2 separate regions of the Homo sapiens genome follow, and region 1 is linked to region 2. Evidence: fine-mapped expression QTL. A gene starts in region 2. The other region holds a variant in brackets. All regions are shown on one strand. Distances are from middle to middle.

Evidence for each region. PIP is the estimated chance that this variant, and not a neighbour inherited with it, causes the effect.
Region 1: its variant is fine-mapped to the expression of USP22 in thyroid (GTEx, PIP 0.91).

Annotation. Positions count from the first base shown.
Region 1 is chr17:21,010,935-21,021,789 of GRCh38, reverse strand. USP22 (ubiquitin specific peptidase 22) reads left to right here. Exons shown (of 13, transcript NM_015276.2): 3 at 564-677; 4 at 2,605-2,706; 5 at 3,679-3,848; 6 at 5,891-6,038; 7 at 8,855-8,960; 8 at 10,481-10,639. Among named protein-coding and RNA genes, the nearest start is that of USP22, 27 kb to the left of the region's middle. The variant G/A (reference allele first, on the strand shown) is at 5,599.
Region 2 is chr17:21,037,956-21,048,810 of GRCh38, reverse strand. USP22 (ubiquitin specific peptidase 22) reads left to right here and starts at 5,800. Exons shown (of 13, transcript NM_015276.2): 1 at 5,800-6,146. The coding sequence starts at 5,976. RefSeq lists enhancers at 4,082-5,029, 5,030-5,979 and a silencer at 5,515-6,114.

The DNA.
Region 1 (10,855 bases), 27 kb after region 2:
TTGAGAAATTGTGGTAGAAGACCCACCTTCAGGCAGCTCTGGGTCAAGATGTCAATCAAAGTCATCCGATGAGAAACTATTTTCCCCCTGTACTTAAGGTAAGAGTAGCAAATGCCGCCAACCACAAAAGTCACAGCAAGTTGCTGCCACATTCTTTATGGTGATGGTGTCAGGAATTCTAGATGGAGGGAAGCATAGTCACTCCGTGTCAGGTGGCCAGGACTGAAAATATCCAATGCAGTTGTACCAGTTTTAAATACCACGCATTCAGAGAAGGTGGCAGAGGTCCTGATCCTGGAGTATTGGCTGCTTTGAAAAGTATGTATGGGTCGCCTCTGTTTTTTAAGACACCTCAGCCCTGGGCATGAGCTGCCAAACACAGTGCATGCCCCTCACCTGCTCAGGATAGGAGACTCCGCTGGACTGGCTTCCCTGCTTGTGAATAGGAAGGTGCTGTGAACAGTCAGTATCTACAGAACCTCACTGTGTTTAACTCTGCCCTCCAGCCTTCCATTGTGGTTTTTAATTCAACTTGGTTTCTCCTCCCTCCTTTCTCTCCTCAGCCATTGATCTGATGTACGGAGGCATCTACTGTTTTCTGTGCCAGGACTACATCTATGACAAAGACATGGAAATAATCGCCAAGGAGGAGCAGCGAAAAGCTTGGAAAATGCAAGGTTTGGTTCCACCTCAGTTTACCTGCTTGATCCTGCAGTTCCCTCATGTCCATCAAGGGCAGACCCAGTAGGAGAAAGAGAAGTACCTAGGTGGGAAGTGGCAGGCTGGTGGGAAGAGGCCGTCCCCACCTTCCCCTAAGGCCCACAGTGGAGTCAGCTGAAGCTCTGCATGACAGGGGAGGTGGCTAGTGTCGAGGCATGCATAGCTGCCCGTGTGCTTGGGACCACTTCCAGGGTGCTTCCCTTGCAGGTCCCCCATGGGCCTGCAGCTGGGCCAAGGGAACAACCCCAGCATTACTTAAGCTCTCCCAGGGCGCACCTGCAGATGTGGGGCTGAACGAGTGTGGCGAGGTCACACCTCTCGGGGACAGGTGACTCCGTATCTGGACATCCCTGAGTGGTTTGCCCTCAGCTCTGCCGAATTCTAGCAAGCGATCTCTTTGCAGTAATGTTATATGTAAACATACCTCCTTCCTCCCAGGAGAGCAGACTATTTTCGGATCAAGTTGTGGTAGAATCTCTTTTAAAACTCTGGACTGTTTGGGTGATGTTAAATCCATGTCAACAGCGTGCACCCACCAGATGGAAACTAGACCCACCAGATGGAAACTAGACCCACCAGAAGGAAACTAGGAGAGTCTCCCAGCAGCCCCACTGCACAGTCAGATCCTTGCCATCTTGTGAGCTGCCCTCACGGCTCTCGCACCAGTGTGGGTTTTGCACTTGCCGTCGCCACCGTGTGGCCACACACACTGGTTATTGGCTACACAGAGTGAGAGGAGCAAACATGCAGTCATTTTCTTTATTTTTTATTTCTTCTTGGCTTCCCTGAGTTTTTTTTCCTTTTTTTTTTTTTTTTTTTTTTTTTGGTTTTTGATTCTGACAGATGCTCATAGTGGTTGACAGTGATAGTGACATAGTGACAGGTGTGGTTTACCCCAGTTGACAGGTGAGCATCTGATCTCCCTGGTAGCAAAGCCATCACTGTTTGCAAAGGAAACATATGAACCTGACACCTGTTTTACATTCTTGCCTTGATTACTCTCCATTGAAAACACCCCAGTGTTTTGAGAAGGGAAGAATAGCAACAGGGGCTCTTTCAGTGAGCAGAATTATTTGTGTTTAACAAGTCTTCTCTGGAGAGCAATCTCTGACTTGTGTTCGCTGTTCTTTTCCCTCTCAGAAATTTAATAACATTGTGACTAAGTGTGGGTGTATTATTCTGTGCAGAGCACTTAAAGCACGGGCCTAAGAAATGTATGTCCAGGATTAAAATGGAATTCTTCTAGAATCATTTTATAATTCTGTCTATCCAACATGCTGTGTCTTTTAAAGTATTTTGAAGTATTCAGAAATGTTGGTTGGCATGGAACAAGTACTTCTGAGCGCATAGGGTGTGCGTTGAATGGAATACTATGCCAATTAGCATTTACCACCACTCTCTGAATATTTTGTGGCACACACGTTTTTAACTGTTGGATCTATCTTAGTTTGGTAACTCGACGCTGAGTTTATGCTATTTCAGTTTGCTGAAAAGTGCAAGCTCTCTCCTTCAATTTCACTTGTTTGCGGGAGAATCCTTCATGTAAGTTCCCATTGGTGCTGATGCTGCCATCTCTGTGCTGAAGGATGGAAGACATTTGAAAAACAACTGTTTTGGCATTGGCGTTGGGGTAGTTTTGACTGGAGGTGCTGCTTTTCTTGCAGGAAACGTAGCTCACATCCTCATACCCTCTGTGAGAAGCTCCTTTAAGTGTTGTGTGTAGCCCCTCTCAGCACAGTAGAGTTTGAGAAAGCCCTGGTGCTGTGGATGTTGCTCACTGAAATGCACCCTGACAGACAGCATAGCGCCACAGCTTTTATGTGTAAACACACTTGATGTGAAAATCTAGCTAATAGCGCTTGGAACTGTCCTTCATCTGCTTAGGCGTTGGAGAGAAGTTTTCAACTTGGGAACCAACCAAACGGGAGCTTGAACTGCTGAAGCACAACCCGAAAAGGAGAAAGATCACCTCGAACTGCACCATAGGTGGGTGGAGCGTGTCGTCACTCTCAGCTAGGCTTCTTTCCAGGGTTTAAAAGTAAATACAGAATTGTGGGTTTCTTAAGTCCACATGATTCTGTTGAAGCCCTGCATAACTGTCACTCATCAATGTGCTCAGCAACCAGCTCTTGAGCACCTGTTCTCTGCAGGGACCTGCAGTGGGCTTGGGGCGCAGAGTGATGCGTAGCAACAGCCCTGCCCTCACAGCCTTCAGCGTCTGTGTGGGTAAAGGGACTCAAGTTGATTTTGGCCAGGGTGAGGCTGGGCACAGTAATCTTCAGGGAGAGAAATGATGTGTGTGAGTGTAAGTGTTCGCTGAATTTTCTACAAATTGAGGGAATACCCTTTAAAACTTTTTCTTTTTCTTTTTTGAGACAGAGTCTTGCTCTGTTGCCCAGGCTGGAGCACAGTTCACTGCACCCTCTGTCTCCTGGGCCCAAGCGATCCTTCCACCTCAGCCTCCCAAGTAGCTGGGATTGCAGGTGCACACCACCATGTTTGGATAATTTTTGTGTTTTGCGTAGAGACATCTCACCATGTTGCCCAGGCTGGTCTCGAACTCCTGGGCTCCAGTGATCCTCATGCCTTGGCTTCCCAGAGTGCTGGGTTACAAGTATGAGCCCCTGCCCTGGCCCTAGAACATTTTTAAAAACCTGTTTTGTTTGTTCATTAGGCTTCACTCTGACCTGGCCTGTTGTCGTAGAAACTATATTTGTGTAATTCTGTCAAAGCATACAATGGCTGAAGTGGGAGGGGTCCATGGTGGTGGACATTCTTCAATACCGTTCATGTAAAAGTGGCATAAAAACTAGCAGAATGCGATATCTCATCGTGTTCTGGCTTGAATGAATGAATAAAAGAAAATGAGTATGTAGAGGTAGAGGAAGCCGCTGGGATCCAGCGACACCTGTGGTTCAGCACACAGGTAACTCCTGCTCTCTGGTGATTTGTGTCCAGGTCTGCGTGGGCTGATCAACCTTGGGAACACATGCTTCATGAACTGCATCGTGCAGGCCCTGACCCACACGCCACTTCTGCGGGACTTCTTCCTGTCTGACAGGCACCGCTGTGAGATGCAGAGCCCCAGCTCCTGTCTGGTCTGTGAGATGTCCTCACTGTTTCAGGAGGTGAGCGCCATTGACTTCTGCAGGGGAACATTTCTGTTACTTTGTTTTCACCTTCAAAAAAAAAATTTAAGGTGGACCATGATAAAGGAAGATACATTTAGAACCTTTTGTAGTAAGTTAATGTTTAATATACATGTCTATTATGGAAAACACAGTTTTCCAAAAAGGGAAGACCTGGCGTGATTTTTGGGGACGCACTGCTGACTCAGAACAAGGAGAAGCCCTTTGAGAGGCTTGTGGCAGAGACTTCCCTGGTGGGTGACATTTGTCTCTAAAGACGGGTGATTCTCCCCCTTCCTCTTCCTCCATGGTCTACCTTCCTGGCTCAGAAAGGCACGCATGTGTCACCCTCCTGTGTCCTCCTGGTATGCGAGTCTCCTCCACCGCCAGGTCTCTCTAAGCATGCCCCATCAGAGCCTCTGTCCTCATGAGCTACGCGCTGCACGTTGGCTGTTCCTGTGGGCTGCACGTGTGGCGTTCCTGTCCACTTCTGTCCCCGGCATCAGAGCATGGCAGCGTTCAGAGCAAGGCGTTCACGGCTGCCGCCTCAGCCCTCACCGGCTCCGTGACCTAGACATGCTTCTCAGAGCTGAAGCAGCTCAGTTACCTCAACTAATAAGCAGGCTGGTGCCTGTTCTTCAGGTGCCTTGCACAGGAGCCAGCCAACAGCCCTGGCCTGTTCCCATTCGTAACCTCTGCGAGAGATGCAGCCACGCCAGCTCACTCATGTCTGTCTGGTCACTGGTCGCTTTTGTGGGACAGCCACAGAGTTGAGCAGTTGGACAGAGGCTATCCAACCTGCAAAGCTGAAATTATTTACTGTCCAAGCCTTTCAAAAACAGATTGCCAGCCTCTGGTCGAGCCTAACCGATTTCCTCAAAGTACCTGCAATGTGCCATAACTGCTGGGGACACGGCCCAAATAGGAGAAAGGAGGGTGCAGCTGGGAAGTTGGTGGGTGGTTGTATCACTGACTTTAGTGATAAGCTCACTTGTGTTAGATTGTTTTTAGACTCCGGCTTGTTAAGGTGTAAATTACAGTCACACCCACCTTCTAGCCTATAGATAGATGAGTTTCGACGAATGCATAGTTGTGTAACTGCTGCTACTCAAGATGAAGAACTGTTACCTCTCCGAACTCCCTCGTGCCCCTCCGAAGTCAACCCCCAGTCCCCAGACCCTGGTAGCTGCCGATCTGTCTTCGGTCCCTTGAGTGTCCTTTACCAGCGCATCATACGGATGGATGCATGCAGGAAGTAGCCTTTCTGAATCTGGCTGTCCCTACTTAATGTAATACTGGGTGGATTCACCCGTGTCTTGCGTGCATCCATGATGTGTGCTTTCGATGTCTGAGTTGGGTTCCATTATGTAGATGGGTTATGGTTTAGTTGTCTGTTTCCCAGTTCAGACACATTTGGGTGGTCTGTGGTTTTGGGTTTTTTGATGAGAAATAAAACTGCCCTGAATTCTGTATTTGCACAGGCAAGACCCCTCTGTGGGTTCTGACCTGGGGAGGAAGCCGTGGGATGGAAGGTGTGCTGCTGGGTCTGCGGCTGGAGTTGAGCTGTTGGAGAGGACTGGCTGGCAAGCCCTCAGCTAATTGCCATTAGCCTCAGAGGCAGAGAATCCTGTGGCTGATGCTGGTGAATTCTGCATAATCACAGTGATGTGCTTCCCTTTGCGGAGGTGCTGGTGTCCATGGGCCTGAGTGGTTTGGCTAGTGCTTTGAGGAAACTAGTATTGGGCAAATC[G/A]AGTCACTTTTATTTGCATGTGATCTCATAGTAGCAAGTCATAATTCATTTTTTAGGCTTATATGTGGAAAACTAGATGGTAGAAAGGAAAAAATTCATATGAGGACTCGAAAAGTCCAGTGAGCCCAGATAAAAATAGACTTTGCAAAAAGTAGAAAAGTAAAATCCAAACATTTGTGTCAAATGAGCCACAGCCAATGGTAGGCATCTGATAAAGGTTTTGATTGTGTGTACTCTGTGTTCAGAGTCTACATTTATTCCTGACAAGGTTTCCTTCCCCGCCCTCTGGCAGTTTTACTCTGGACACCGGTCCCCTCACATCCCGTATAAGTTGCTGCACCTGGTGTGGACCCACGCGAGGCACCTAGCAGGCTACGAGCAGCAGGACGCCCACGAGTTCCTCATCGCGGCCCTGGACGTGCTCCACCGACACTGCAAAGGTGGGCCCTGGGCTCTGCACCCTCCACCAGGGCAGGATGTTTTCCTTGAAGGGGAAGGAAGCAAAGCGAGTGTATGCACTCGTGCAAAAAGGGGCACAGGTGACACATTCCATTGTTTTGTCATCATAGCCCTTGTCGTCATTTGTTTCTGAAGTCACCATAACTAATGACCTCAGAGAGGCTCCTCCTAGTTTATTTTTAAGAGGCGAGGAAGTAGTTCCAGCAGTATGACAGGTCCTCAGTGACCGATCACAGTGAACAGCAAACTCTTGGAGCCCTCTTGGGCCTGTGCTTTGAGGCCCCTGCCTGCCCTGGCATTTCTGGGACCCTGTGGGTTATCAGGCCTGAGGCTTCTGGACATCCCCCAAACACAACTTAATCACCCAACTGTCTCCTTCCCATTGGGGACTCTCCAAAAGGACTGATGGTTGCTCTGAAATAGCCAGAGAGCTGGGACACAGGACGAGCAAAGCTTCTCTTGGGGTCTCATTGGACCTGGGCCATCTCCCCCAACATAGTCCCACAGCCTGGCCCCAGGGTGGTACCCTGATGATTTTTCAGAGTTGTGTGGTGTTGGTAGTTGGCAGGGGCAGCTCTTAGCGCTGGAGGTGGGAGGCTGGGAATGAATGACTTGAGCCAAGATCGGCTCCTCCCCACTCCTCATGGTGGAGATCCCAGTGTGAGGGACCTGCAGCTGAAGTCTATCCATACAGGCAGAGAGACTGAGAGGTGATTCTCAGATGAGTGTGGGCTGGTCACTTGCAGGTCTTCCTAAAGCCCGTGCTGGCGTTTCTGATTCAGCAGATCTGTGGGGGGCAGGGGCTTCTTCACTCTTAATCAGTTCCCAGCTGATGTTGATGCCGCTGGTTCAGATGCCATACTCTGAGAACCCATGCGCTCAGGTCACAGGGCACCTGGCTGCTTGTGAGTTTCCTGTGGTCTCTGGGCTGGCACAGCTAGTTGTAGCCGATATCCTATCAGTTAATTTTAACTTGGAGTCTTTTAGAGAACAGAGTCCTGTTCTGACGGTTCACCGAGTTGAACAGCTTGGTGGGCTGGCCTTCCCATCGCTTCTCATCCGTCTCAAGGCTGTGCACCCGGGCCCTAGGCGCTTACGTACAACCTATGGGTTCTGAGATCACAGCCCAGAAACAACCCACAGTTGAGCTAAAATGGCTGGTTTTGGTCAAATGTGACTTTGGGTTCTGTTTTCTTTTGGTACTTACTTTTTTTCCTCTGAAAAACTACGTGATCCTTTTAATTCTTACCTAGAAATCAAAGGAAAGTTACTTAGTAGCTTAGGTAGAATTTCATGTCCTAGTATGATTTATAAGAGAGGAAAGAGCCACTGTGGAAGTGACTATGCTGTTACCCCAAGCACCTAGTGAGAATAACGAAGAGCCTTCTGTAAGCAGCAGAAAGATGTTCTAAAAATCACTTGTTCAAAAATGCATTGCTGTTAAATGTTCACATGACAAAATGTGACCTCTGACGTGCTTCTGACAGAATTCCCTTGGAAATGTCTGAAAAGAAATGTAAGGTTCTTCTGTTTAGAAACCTGGTTGCCAGAGCTGTTCAGCGAGGTGGCCTGGCCACATGGCCTTGGTTACGTGCATTTTGTCCTTGTGGCCTTCACGGCATCTTTCTGTTCATCTTTTGTTTTGTTTTGTTTTGTTTTTGAGTCAGAGTCTCGCTCTGTCGCCAGGCTGGAGTGCAGTGGTGCGATCTCAGCTCACTGCAACCTCCGCCTCCCAGGTTCAAGTGATTCTTCTGCCTCAGCCTCCTGAGTAGCTGGGACTACAGGCGCCCGCCACCATGCCCAGCTAATTTTTTGTATTTTTAGTAGAGACGGGGTTTCACCGTGTTAGCCAGGATGGTCTCGGTCTCCTAACCTCGTGATCCGCCCGCCTTGGCCTCCCAAAGTGCTGGGATTACAGGCGTGAGCCACCGCGCCTGGCCATTCTGTTCATCATTCTTTGCGCCTTCCTGTATGGATATTCTTGTCCTCTGAATTTTGTCCCATGAATTTGAGATCCCTCTGGGAAGCATTTTTCTCTCTAATCTTAAACCTTCTGCTCTCAGAAGACTTAGTGGCCCTTCTCTATTCCTCTGTCATGATTCAACGTCTTTGAACTGTGATGTATATACAGGTGTCCTCGTGCCCTGTCCCCACTGTCTAGTGAAGTTATGTAGAATATGTATTCCACACACGAATTAAGTTCTGCTACTTAAGTTTCTTTTTCACAGATCTGCACACATGGATATGAATGAAGTGTGTATTGAATAGAGAGGGTGGGAGTGGCACTTCCAGATGCAACTGACTGGAAGACACGCTGTCCCCTGGGGGCTCTAGCTGATGAGGACAGCCTGTGTCCTGCGGTGTCACTTTCTGAACTTGGGGCACCATGATACCTACTCAGGGAGGGAGGTTGCTGGGGCTTCCCCGGGTGTACCTGGCCCACCATATGTTCAGCTGTCTCACTGGAACAATATTGATTCAGTCATTCTTTATATGATAATGGGAATCGATTATTCTGCTCAGTCACTGGGCATTAGGTGGGTTTTCTTGGCAAGACTGAAGCTGTGGGGCTCTTGTTAGGGAATGAGAAAAAGGAGCATTGAAAATCCAAGTGCTGTGATTTCTCGTCATATTAAAATAACAAGGACACCCTCTGCTAAAATGAGGAGTGTCCTCACATGGCCTTTTAAAGCGTTGGCCCTGGCTCCCCCAGGCTTCTGCAGGGTGAACTGCTCTTCCCTTAGAGACTCCCCATATTTGGGGAGACACTAATCCCAGAGCCGTGGTCTGTCTCCAGGTGATGACAATGGGAAGAAGGCCAACAACCCCAACCACTGCAACTGCATCATAGACCAGATCTTCACAGGCGGGTTGCAGTCAGACGTCACCTGCCAAGTCTGCCAGTAAGTGAGAGGCTGCGTGCTCGGCAATATCAAACCCTCTGGGGCCGTACTGACATCCTCCCAGTCTCCAGAGCTGTGTGTGCTCTGAGAGGTCTTTAAGGAGGCTATGAGATAAATGATTAATAGACGCCATGAGAGCGAAGGTTGTGGGGTGGGGGTGCTTCCTCTTGGGGAGGTCGTAGGGCAGGTGTCCCCTCGGGATGCGAGCCCTTCGTGTTGAGGTCTTGGCTGTTGTCTACAGCCAGCAGTGTGTTCTTGGAAGCTTCCCCTACCATTTTGCATCTTACAGTCCTTGACCAGGGACCAAGTGAAAGAGCCCTCTTCAAGAAGGCGTGGATCATGCATGGTGGATTGTTTTTCTACGTGCTTCGAAGTGTGTTAGTTTTCATTATTTTATGGTTTCTGGTTCCATTTTCTGATGTAGTGGCCCTAATTCTTCTCAGATGTGGTCTCTGCTTAGAGCCTCAAGTGTTGAGTGCAGGGAGAATCCATTGCTTTGTTAGGTCAGGGGACCCTCTCACCCAACCTCAGTGCATGCTACAGGTTTTTTGTTTTTGTTTTTGTTTTTTTCAGGCATGGGGTCTTGTGTATGTTGCCCAGGCTGGCCTTGAACCCATGGGCTCAAGCGATCCTCCCTCCTTAGCCTCCCAAGTAGCTGGGACTACAGGCATGGGCCACCGTGCCTGGCTCTGTTCTTTACTTCAGTTGAAGTTTAAAAACCCTGGACATGATCCACCGAAATTATTTCAGAACCCGAAATGGACTGTCACTTCTAAACTGCATAAGACGAGCAAATATCGGGAAAGGCCAGTGCTGCCTGTGTCACGGGGGCCATTTTCTATAAGGAGCATAGACCGTTTGGGGCCTTGTCTCTGAGTATTAGAAACCGAGTTTGCTCTGAGCAATTTGGACCTCCTCGCTGTCCCTTAACTACTGAATTCCATTAGTAGGAGATTGTCTCAAGATTTAAATCCTGTATAAATATCGAGAGTAAATTTCCCAGTCTGCAAGTTTTCATTTTTTATATTGTTAAATAAATTTCTAGCAAGGAACTGGCCTTGTGAAATGCAGCATTGACTGTCCAGTGCAGGCCACCGGGCCTGGCCTGGGCACGCTCTGTGAAATGTGCAGGGGTCTCCAGTGTTGCCTAGGGTCACAGGCCCCAAGTTCTAGATGCAGCTGAGATAGACCTGTGGATTCAGAGCCTCTGACAGGGCCCATGAGTTTATCCTCCTCCCAAGTCCCTCAGTGACTGTGATGGTCTCCAGACTGGGAAGTCCTTGCTTGAGGAGCGCCCCTCGCCTTCCGAGTTCACACACACCCCTCCCCAGGGCCACCTTGGGAGCCAGGACACGTTGGGTGTGAGCACTGCTGCTCTTGCTCCTGCCCCATCCCACCTGAGTGTCACTGTGACAAAGGGCACAGCGGGGAAGGGATGTGGGAACGGCTTCCACCCCGGGTTGCCTCTGGAGCTGGGTGGGTGTCAGTCCTCACAGCCATTGTTTTCCCTCTGCTTCCAGTGGAGTCTCCACCACCATCGACCCCTTCTGGGACATCAGCTTGGATCTCCCCGGCTCTTCCACCCCATTCTGGCCCCTGAGCCCAGGGAGCGAGGGCAACGTGGTAAACGGGGAAAGCCACGTGTCGGGAACCACCACGCTCACGGACTGCCTGCGACGGTGAGAGGCCTGCACCCACACGGCGGGGGCGTGTCTCCTGGCCAGAAGGCTGTGCTCCATCAGGACCAAAGCAGGGCTCTTTCACATGCCCAGGACAGAGCCTGGGCAAAGGTGCAGCATGAGCCTGGATTGGCTGCAGTCTCTTGTGCTAGTTTGTCCTTTGTTTTGGCCAGATGACTCAATATTTCTGTCCCCCAGCTTCGCACAGCACCAGGT
Region 2 (10,855 bases):
CAGTGGCTCATGCCTGTAACCCCAGCACTTTGGGAAGCTGAGGTGGGTGGATCACCTGAGGTTGGGAGTGTGATACCAGCCTGACCAACATGGAGAAACCCTGTCTCTACTAAAAAATACAAAATTAGCCAGGCGTGGTGGTGCATGCCTGTAGTCCCAGCTACTCTGAAGGCTGAGGCAGGAGAATTGCTTGAACCTGGGAGGCGGAGGTTGCAGTGAGCCAAGATCGCACCATTGCACTCCAGCCTGGGCAACAAGAGCGAAACTCCATCTCAAAATAATAATAATAATAATTTTGGATCATATCCTGGACATTACTACTGTTATGTTGTTGAAAGTATGAATTTTGTTATATACCTCCAAAGACAGTTAATATTTTTGTTTTAGCAGGCAATTAATGGTATTTAGTGGTTTCTTGACTAGTAGCTTACATCTCCGCTCACTTCTTTTTGTTCTAGTTTGGCTGCTTGGAATTTGCCCCATAGGAGTGGTTTGGTGGTCAACTGGACCCCTGGATGTAGTTTATGCACAGATTCTGCGGCTTCACATCTCTGAATCTCTTCTCACTTTTCAGTGGCTTTGGTTGCTCTGTACTCTGTCTTCTGCTTCTTCAGTCCAGAAATACCATGGATTTTCTATCAGAGTTTCAGGCTTCCTGTCTAGATGCCAAGTATGTCCTGTCCTCAGTCTATAAACCATCGACATCGGGTTACTCCTATTGGGCAGGTCCCTTTTTCCATGTGTCTGCACCTAACTAGGTCTGCCTGCTTTGGTTCACTCTCCAAAGCCTTTAGATATTTGTGCTTGCATTATGTCCACAGTTCATAGTTGTTATATGAGGGAGGATTGGTCTAGGATTATTACTTGACCATCTAGGAACCATAATTCCATGGGTGTTTTAACTTCTTTTAAATTTGAAAACAAAAATTTAGAAAATAACATTTTAGGCTGTGTTAGTCTCATGGATGGTGGGAAATGCCTTTTCAGGCAAAAACCTGACCAGGTCACACTCCTTTTTAAAAACTGTCTTTCGGCTGGGCGCGGTGGCTCACGCCTGTAATCCCAGCACTTTGGGAGGCCAAGGCGGGCGGATCACGAGGTCAGGAGATCGAGACCATCCTGGCTAACAAGGTGAAACCCCATCTCTACTAAATATACAAAAATTAGCCGAGCATGGTGGCGGGCGCCTGTAGTCCCAGCTACTCGGGAGGCTGAGGCAGGAGAATGGTGTGAACCCAGGAGGCAGAGCTTGCAGTGAGCCTAGATTGCGCCACTGCACTCCAGCCTGGGTGACAGAGCGAGACTCCATCTCAAAAAAACAAAACAAAACAAAAAAAAAACCCTGTCTTCCATACCTAGGTAAGGCATCAAAAAACATTTCCAGATCTCCTCCACCATACCTGTCTGGGGAGGATTACGGTAAAGAGGTGTCTTGGAGTATTACGATATTACCTAGACTTTCCTTTATCGCTGCAGTTTTATATTCCTATAACATCCCGCTAATGTTGCTGGCAATATTGCTACTAAGCACACTACACTGTGGGATTCTTTTTTTTTTTTAAGACACCGTCTCACTGTATCACCAAGGCTGGAGTGCAGTGGCGCGATCTTGGCTCACTGCAACCTCCACCTCCCAGATTTAAGTGATCCTCCTGCCTCAGCCTCCCAAGTAGCTACAATGACAGGCATGCACCACCACGCCTGGCTAATTTTTGTATTTTTAGTAGAAATGGGGTTTCACCATGTTGGCCATGCTGGTCTTGAACTCCTGACCTTCAGTGATCCACCCACCTTGGCCTCCCAAGGTGCTGGGATTACAGGCATAGGCCACCTGGCTTTCTTTTTTGAGACAGAGTCTTGCTCTGTCGCCCAGGTTGGAGTGCAGTGGTGCAATCTTGGCTCACTGCAACCTCCACCTCCCGGGTTCAAGCGATTTTCTGAGTAGCTGGGACTACAATGGTGCCATCACATCCAGCTAATTTTTTGTATTTTTAGTAGAGACGGGGTTTCGCCATGTTAGCCAGGATAGTCTTGATCTCCTGACCTTGTGATCCGCCCGCCTCGGCCTCCCAAAGTGCTGGGATTACAGGCGTGAGCCACCATGCCCGGCCTTTTTTTTTTTAAATTAAAAAAAAAAAAATTCTCCTCTCCCATCCTCCTGGGATTCTTGAAGCAAGAAATTGTTGTAATCATCTCAATTGCCAGCAACTATCAGATCAATAACTGCTAATGTTTCTTGAGCCCTTATTAACAACAGGCACTTGCTAAGAGTTTTGTATGGATTATCTCATTTATTCCTTGCCATACACTTCAACGTAAGCACAGAGCTGATATTCTCCCAATTTTAACAGATAAGTGAACAGGCTGAGAAATTTAGGCAATCCGCCCAAGGTTACACAGATAGTAGGTGGCAGAGCCTGACTGTAATTTAGCAATCTGACTTGATTCTTGGATACATGAATAAATGCATATACTGAACATGTGGGCCACTGTTTTCTACATGTTGTAGAACAGTGTGTTCCCTCGTACCATGACACTTTGTCATTTCTTTTTAAGTTTTAGTGATTTTTAAATACAAAGGAATATATTAATTTTCATTGTAAGAAAACATTCAAACATTACAGATTAAGTCACATCTACCTTTTCCTTTCCAGAAGTTACTGTTATTGATGGGTGTGTTTCTTTCTTCCAGGCCTTCCATTATTTTCCTACAAACGTCAGCATATTTTCTGTAATTTTCTGCAATTTGTTGTATTCATTTATGTTTTATGACTTTTTGTACTAGTACTTACAGATCTAGTTTTTTTTTTCTCTGTTGCCCAGGCTGGAATCACTGGCATGATCAGGGCTCATTGCAGCCTCGACCTCCTATGCTCAAACAATCCTCCCGCCTCAGCCTGCTGGGTAGCTGGGACTATAGGCGTGCACCACCACAACTGGCTTTTTTTTTTTTTTTTTAATTTCTTTGTAGAGATAGGGTTTCATCACATTGCCCAAGCTGGACTTCATTCTTTTTAATAGCTGTGTACTATTCCCTAGAATGGCTAGTCCATCATTTATTCAATGATTCTCCTATTAATCGTCATTAACGTTTCCATTTGTTTCCCATTAGAAAAAAAGCACTTCATCCATACATCTTTTGGGGACTGCTTCTCAAGAGTATATTCTGTAGTTTAAATTTTTTAAAATCACTAAGGTTGTTCTGATTATGGAACATTTAAATCATTATAATTGATTCAAGTGGACAGCACAGATATTCTTCTGTGCTTAGATGATCGTATTGATAAAAAAAAAGATAATAAATATTAGGGCCTGAATGCTAAGTGCACATTTGTGAAGCCAAATCATATTTGTATAAGCCCAACAATATGAGAAAACTCCTTACATCAATATTTATAGAGATGGATCACATATTTTTGTAATTCCTGACTTACTAGTTAGGATTTTAGTTTTTTGTAAGCTGACATTCTTTCCTCTAACATAAACATGGTTTTCCTTAACAAGTGTTTTATTCTAGAAATGGTCTCGTTAGATTTTTCTGTAAATGTGTTTCGGGTTAATTAATTCGGCAGGGTTTTGTTTTGTTTAGAGATGGGGTCTTGCTTTGTTGCCCAGGCTAGAGTGTAGTGGCACAATCACAGCTCACTGCAGCCTTGACCTCCTGGGCTCTGCGATCCTCTTGCCGTAGCCTCTGGAGTAGCTGGGACTACTATAGGGCTTCACCGGGTAATTCCGAGTACCTGCATGTAGCCAATACAGTTCTGGGAACTTGCGGCTGTAGTAGTACATAAAACACACAATATCATTACCCTCTTGGAGGCCAGGCGCAGTGGCTCACGCCTATAAGCCCAGCACTGTGGGAGGCCGAGGCTGGTGGACCACTTGCTGTCAGAAGTTCAAAACCAGCCTGACGAAACCCCATTTCTAGTAAAAGTTCCAGATCAACATGGTGAAAGCCCCTCTCTACTAAAAATACAAAAATTAGCGGCGTGGTGGCAGGCGCCTGTAATATCAGCTACTGGGGAGGCTGAGGCAGGAGAATCGCTTGAATCTGGGAGGCGGAGGTTTCAGTGAGCCGAAATTGCACCACTGTACTCCAGCCTTGGGCAACAGAGCGAGACTCTGTCTCAAAAATAAAAAATAAAAAAAAAAGATTACCCTCTCGTAATTTTTCATGCTATTAAGGGAAGAGACAATAAAAAAAATAAGTAAATATTCATTACGCCAGATAGTGATAAATTCTTTGGAGAAAAACAAAGCAGGGTAAGGGAATGGAGAATTTTGGGGGGCTTGCAATTTTCATTAGGGTGGCAATTTTCCTTTTCACGGAAAAGGAGGTGTGTGATAAAGCTGGAAGGAGGTGAGCGAGCATCAGACATGGAATATAAGGATGCAGAGGGTGAGGGGGTAGGGAAAGCATTTTAGGGAGAGGGTACTGCAAGCACGAAGGCCATGAGGCAAAAACCTGTGCTCGGCAATTTGTCTTGGCCACAAAAGCTTTATCCCAGTCGTCAGTCCATTAAACCCTGTAGCTTTAAGTGTTGTGAGATCACAATCTTTATTTTTTAACTTGTGATGGTTCTGGACGGCAATTGCTGTTTCCTGCAATCTGTGGATGAATGAATGAGCAAAGCAGTTAGCAGCGGGATGAGTACAGGGGAGCAGCTCCACACCTGACACCTTATCCAAGTTCCCCCAGACCCTTGGCGCCCTGGTTCCCCCAGAACTTCGTTTGCATTCGTCTTTAAATGTCTTCTCAGTTTGCCTTGGGTCAGTTATTTGTATACCGATTAGACCTGTGCCGCCCACTGCGGTAGCAGCTAGTAGGAATTGGATGTGCTTTAAGTGTAAATACCAGATTTCCAAGACTTGCTGCAAAAACTGTAAAACATTCCACTAACGATTTTGCAATACTGCCTACATGCTGAAATAATTTGACTTTATTGGGTTGAGATATATTACTGTAACTTTCTTTTTTCATTAGAAAAATGTAGCCACTAGCAAATGTGAAGTGTCAGGCGTGTGGCGCGCAGATGCCTCTTTAAACTGGATGGCGCCGGGTTGGCCCTCACTATCAGCGGGCTCCCGACAGGAGGCGCCCCAGCTTGCGGCCGGGGGCAGCGCCTACCAGGCAGTTGGCAGGCAGTTCCAGCCCCGGGCCACGGCACTGCAGGGCCCGAGCCAGGTTACGGCAACCGGGGGCCCTGCAAACAGCTCCCGATTAGGGGGTGCTTTTGGGTGGGAAAGCGCAGGCCCTGGATGGAGGCCCGACCTGCGGCGCTCCAGCTCATCGCCCCGCCTCTTTGCGGCAGAGCTCAGGCCGGCGCAAACCGGTTCAGTGCTAGGACTGACGTCTCGCGCCGCCCAACCGCAGCACGCCCCCGCCTCCCCAGTCCTCTGGAAGAGACAGGGAACGTCTAGCCGCCAGGGTCCCGGGAGGCGGCTCTGTACCAGACGGACTATACTGAGAGCCTATGACAATAGCCGAAGGTGCCGGGGGGGGGGGGGGGGTGGCCTACTACCAATAAAGGAAGGGGAGGGGCGGGCCCTCGTTAGCTTCCCCCCCCTACCACGCTTCCTCGGGCGCGGGTCTACCCAGAGCCTAACGGGCGCGCGAGTGTGGGGGAAGGGCCTGGCGCGGGCTGGAGACTGCGCAGTGCGGTGCCGGCCGGGAGGGGGGGGGGGGGTGACGTAATCTCCGTCCGCGGCCGCGGCGCCCCGCCCCGCGACACCCTCCGCGAACCGCGAGAGCGCAGCGCAGGCGGTCCGCAGCAGCCGCAGCTCGGGGGCGGTGCCTGCCTTGCAGCCTCCCCTCGGCGATCGCGCAGCCCCATCTTTGTCCGGCCTCCGCGCTTTGTTCTCGGCGCCCGGGCCTTGGCCAGCCTGGCCAGCCGCCGAGCAGCCCCCACGCCGCGCTGGCGTCGTCCTCGCCTCCCTCGCCGCCGCCCCCCGCGCGCGGCCGGGCCTTGCCCCCCATGGTGTCCCGGCCAGAGCCCGAGGGCGAGGCCATGGACGCCGAGCTGGCGGTAGCGCCGCCGGGCTGCTCGCACCTGGGCAGCTTCAAGGTGGACAACTGGAAGCAGAACCTGCGGGCCATCTACCAGTGCTTCGTGTGGAGCGGCACGGCTGAGGCCCGCAAGCGCAAGGTGCGCCCGGCAGCCCACCGCGCGGCGGGCTCGGGGCCTTCTGCCGCTCCTGAGGCCGGCCGGCGGAGGGGCCCTTTTCCTGCCCTCTTCCCTTCCCCCGTTGCCTTTCCCTGTCCTTCCTCTTCCTCTCTCCTTCTGCCCTCTCTTCTCTTTACCCCTTCCCCCTCCTTTCCTTCCCCCCTCAACTCTCTCCCTTCCCTTATCTCCTCATCTTCCTATCCTTCCCCTCTCCCCCCTTCCCCCATTCTTCCTTTCCCTCCCCCTCCTCTCTGTCCCCTCCCCCTCCTCTCTGTCCCCTCCCCCTCCTTTCTCTCCGCCCTCCCCCTCCCTTATCCTTCTTGGCCCGGGAGGGGCGAGTGCTTCCGGGCCGGGGGTGGTGTTCTCCTGCCCTGCTGCCTGGGGAGCCTGGGACTTCGGTGGGCGGTCCCGGGCGTTCCTGCGCGAGGTCCTTGCGGGGAACTCTCCTGGTTCTGGAGGGTTCGGGGCTGGATGCGGGTGCAGAGAAAGAAATATTTCAAAAAAATGAGTAAAGGATGGGGGGCTGTCGAGTTCTGGGCGTTGGTCTGCAGCGGTCACCCGCCGCCAGGAGCGACCTTGGACGGGAGCTGGGGCAGGAGGCGGGCTGGGGGGCGCGGGGCCGGAGCTTCGCGGCTGCCTCGGGGCCCGCGAGGAGCTGGAGGTGGAGGGCGGCAGGGGCTGGGGCCGGGGCGAGCCTGTGGGTGCGGAGCCACAGCCCGGGTTTGCGTTGCGGCTGAGGAGTAGACTTGGAAGCGCGCCGTGGGCTGTGGGAGGCCTTAACCAGGAGTGAGTCCCCTCGGGGAGCCCAGTCTTGCGTCCCGCAGTTAGGCTTGGTAAGGGTTTGGAAATCAAAACGTAACGTGATTCTTCTATGTGAATAAAGTTTATTTTTACAGTTTCACGCGCTTTTGTAGATTACAATCCGAGATTGGGAGTTGTGAGGGCAGTTTCCACCTTGAGTGGCATTTTTTTATTTATGGGAATACCAACAGGCTCGCTGAGATTGTAGGGTATGTTAAGCAGTAATTCAAAAAAAAAATTATTTTTTTGAGACGAAGTCTCGCTTTGTACCCCAGGCTGGAGTGCAGTGGCGCGATTTCGGCTCACTACAATCTCCGCCTCCCGGGTTCAGCCGATTCTCCTGCCTCAGCCTCCTGAGTAGCTGGGATTACAGGCTCCTGCTACCACGCCCGGCTAATTTTTGTATTTTTAGTAGAGACGGGGTTTCACCATGTTGGCCAGGCTGGTCTGGAACTCCTGATCTCAGGTGATCCACCCGCCTCTGCCTCCCAAAGTGTTGGGATTACAGGCATGAGCCACCGTGCCCGGCCTCAAAATTTTTTTTATCTGTAATGGTATCAGGTAGCGTTATGTCTGGATGAACTAAAATCAGACATAAAACGTTTCAGGATCGGAGTTAGAGTCTTGCTAGTAGAATTGTGTGTCTTTAAGAAAAGATGGCCTGGCTTGGCGCGGTGGCTGACGCCTGTAATCCCAGCACGTGGGGAGGCCGAGGGGGGCAGATCACGAGGTCAGGAGTTCGAGACCAGCCTGGCCAACATGGTGAAACCTCATCTCTACTAAAAATACGAAAAGTAGCCGGGTGTGATGGCGGGCGCCTGTAATCCCAGCTACTCCAGAGGTTGAGGCAGGAGAATCACTTCAACCCGGGAGGCGGAGGTTGCAGTGAGCAGTGATCGCGCCACTGTACTCCAGACTGGGTGACAGAGCAAGACCCCCTCCGGAAAAAAAAAAAAAAGGGTGGCCTGGTTGAAGCCAGTCTTCTACAGGGAATGTGCTGTTGCTACTCTGGGTCAGTAGTGTCCGGATTGGGACGTGACGCGCCCAAGATTTGTTACTACTTTGGATGAAGTGGGGACCGCCCCACTCTTCCTCTCCCTCCTTTTCTTTTTCCGTTCCCTCCCTCCCTCTCCCTTTCTTCCCCCCTCTGGTATTTTTTAACCAAATAGAAGGAGTCAAGTTTAAACCATCATTAACTAACTTTGCCTAATTTCCTAAAGTTAAGAATTACTTTTTTTTTTTGCGCTACTTATGGCTCTGATTAATCTTTTAATTTCAGATGTCAGTTGCTTAGTTTCAAAACTGTTGAGCCACATGTATGTTATTCACCAATTAGAAGTTGAACTGTAGTCGGGTAGTGAAAAATATTTCTTTCAAAATTTAGGTGGGGGCTGCTGCAGTGCCAGTTGGCAGTGTGCCAGCAAGGAGCCCTTAAGCCCTCCATGCTTTTTCCTCTGACTGGGGGGACTTATTTACCTGTATCACTTCATGTGCGGTGTCCTGCATTTCTAGCACTCTCTAGTGGCCCAGTTAAGGAAGAGTTGGTTTGGGAAATAGTTTAACAAACCTGATGATTAACAGTTGGACAATCTGCATAGGATTTCCATCAGATCTGTAAGCTTAGGACATTTTGTTTTTTAAATTTTATTTTATTAAAAATTATTTTTTGTAGAGACAGAGTCTTGCTCTGTTACCCAGGATGGAGTGCAATGGTCTGGTCAGTGATCACTGCAGCCTCAGATTCCTGGACTCCAGCCTCTCCTGAGTAGCTGGGACTACGGGCGTGTGTCACCACGACCGGCTAATATTTGTAGAGACAGTGTCTCACTATATTGCACAGGCTGGTCTTGAACTCCTGGACTCAAGCCATCCTCCTGTCTCCCAGAGTGCTGGGATTACAGGCCAGAGCCACTGAGCCCAGCCATATTTTTGGTTTTAATGATATGAACTTGACTGTAAAAGTACTTTAAGCTGATGATTGTGCCACTGTACTCCAGCCTGGACAACAAAACCTATCTCAAAACAAACTTCAACTTGAATTATAATCTTTGTAAACAAACAAAGGTACTTTTTGAGATGGACATCTCAGGTACAGTTTAAAGAAATGAATCCCTGAATGAATAGGAATTACGAGTTTTGTTATCTAAGGACAGATGGATTATGCATTTTGTACCCAAACTTTGATTCTTCTTTTAACAGGCAGAACATGACAAAAACATGACCAGGCTTGATAAATTTCTGTCCAAAAGAAGCTTGAATTGCAGTAAAACTCTGTTTTTTGAGATGGGGTTTTCACTCTTTTTGCCCAGGCTGGAGGGCAATGGCGTGATCTCGGCTCACCACAGCCTCCCCCTCCAGGGTTTAAGTGATTCTCCCAAGTAGCTGGGATTACAGGCATGCGCCACCATGCCTGGCTAATTTTGTATTTTTCGTAGAGATGGGGTTTCTTCATGTTGGTCAGACTGGTCTCGAACTCCCAACCTCAGGTGATCCGCCCATCTTGGCCTCCCAAAGTGCTGGGATTACAGGCATGAGCCACCGCGCCTGGCCCGAATTGCCATAAAACTCTTGTATTGCAGACTATAAAAATATTTCTGCCGGGCATGGTGGCTCACGCCTGTAATCCCAGCACGTTGGGAGGCCGAGGCGGGCGGATCACGAGGTCAGGAGATCGAGACCATCCTGGCTAACACGGTGAAACCATGTCTTTACTAAAAATACACAAAATTAGCTGGGCATGGTGGCACGCGCCTGTAATCCCAGCTACTCGTGAGGCTGGGGCAGGAGAATCGCTTGAACCAGGGAGGCGGAGGTTGCAGTGAGCCGAGATCGCACCACTGCACTCCAGCCTGGGCGACAGAGCGAGACCGTCTCAAAAAAAAAGAAAAAAACTATTTCCATGATTTAGGACTGGCACGACCACAGTGGCGTCTCCTTTGTGTTTTTGGTGTGTGTTAAATATAACAAATTTCTTACCATTTCAGGGTTTGTCTGTAAAGATAGGAACTGGCAGGAAGTGATTATGATTTAACATTCTACATTATATTTTGAATATAGACACTTTGGAGAACAGGTAATGTTTTTAAAACCATTTCTCTCTTTGAATCTAAAATTTTATGGCACTGTGTCCTCAAAACACTTTTTTAAATTTTTTATTTTTTATGTATTTTTTTTTTTTTTGAGACAGGGTCTGTCTCTCACTCAGGCTGGAGTGCAGTGGTATGATCATGGCTCACTGCAGCCTCGAGTTCCTGGGGTCCAGTGATCCTCCTGCCTCAGCCTCCCAAGTAGCTGGGACTACAGGCATGCGCCACCGCACCTGGCTAATTTTTGTATTTTTGGTAGCCATGAGTTTTGCCATGTTGCCCAGGCTGGTCTTGAACTTCTGAGCTAAGTGATCCTCTCTCCTTGGCCTCCCAAAGTGCTGGCATTACAGGCATGAGCCACCTCTCCCAGCCATCCAACAATGCCTCAGTCTGTCTTTACTGGCTCAGCCAGGTGCTGGGATGGTGGTGAGCACATTGTAGAGAGCTCTCATTACTTGTTTTTATTTTCATAGTCTAGCTCATTTTCCTGATACGTGCTATTGTATTTATTTATTTATTAAAAAAAAATAAAAGACTGAGTCTCCCTATGTTGCCCAGGCTGGTCTTGAACTCCTGGCCTTAGGAGATTCACTTCGGCCTCCCACAGTGCTGGGATGATATGTGCTATTTTAAAAGTATACTTTAAAACTTTGTTTCTTTGAGGAATTTACTTTTTATTTTATAGTGAACTGGATCTTTCAAATCATCACAACAAAACATTACACCATTCATACTAAGTGGGGTCTAAGTAAAAGATCTAAAATGTAAACATTTTTCTGTTTAAGGTTTTAATTTTGAGGTCAT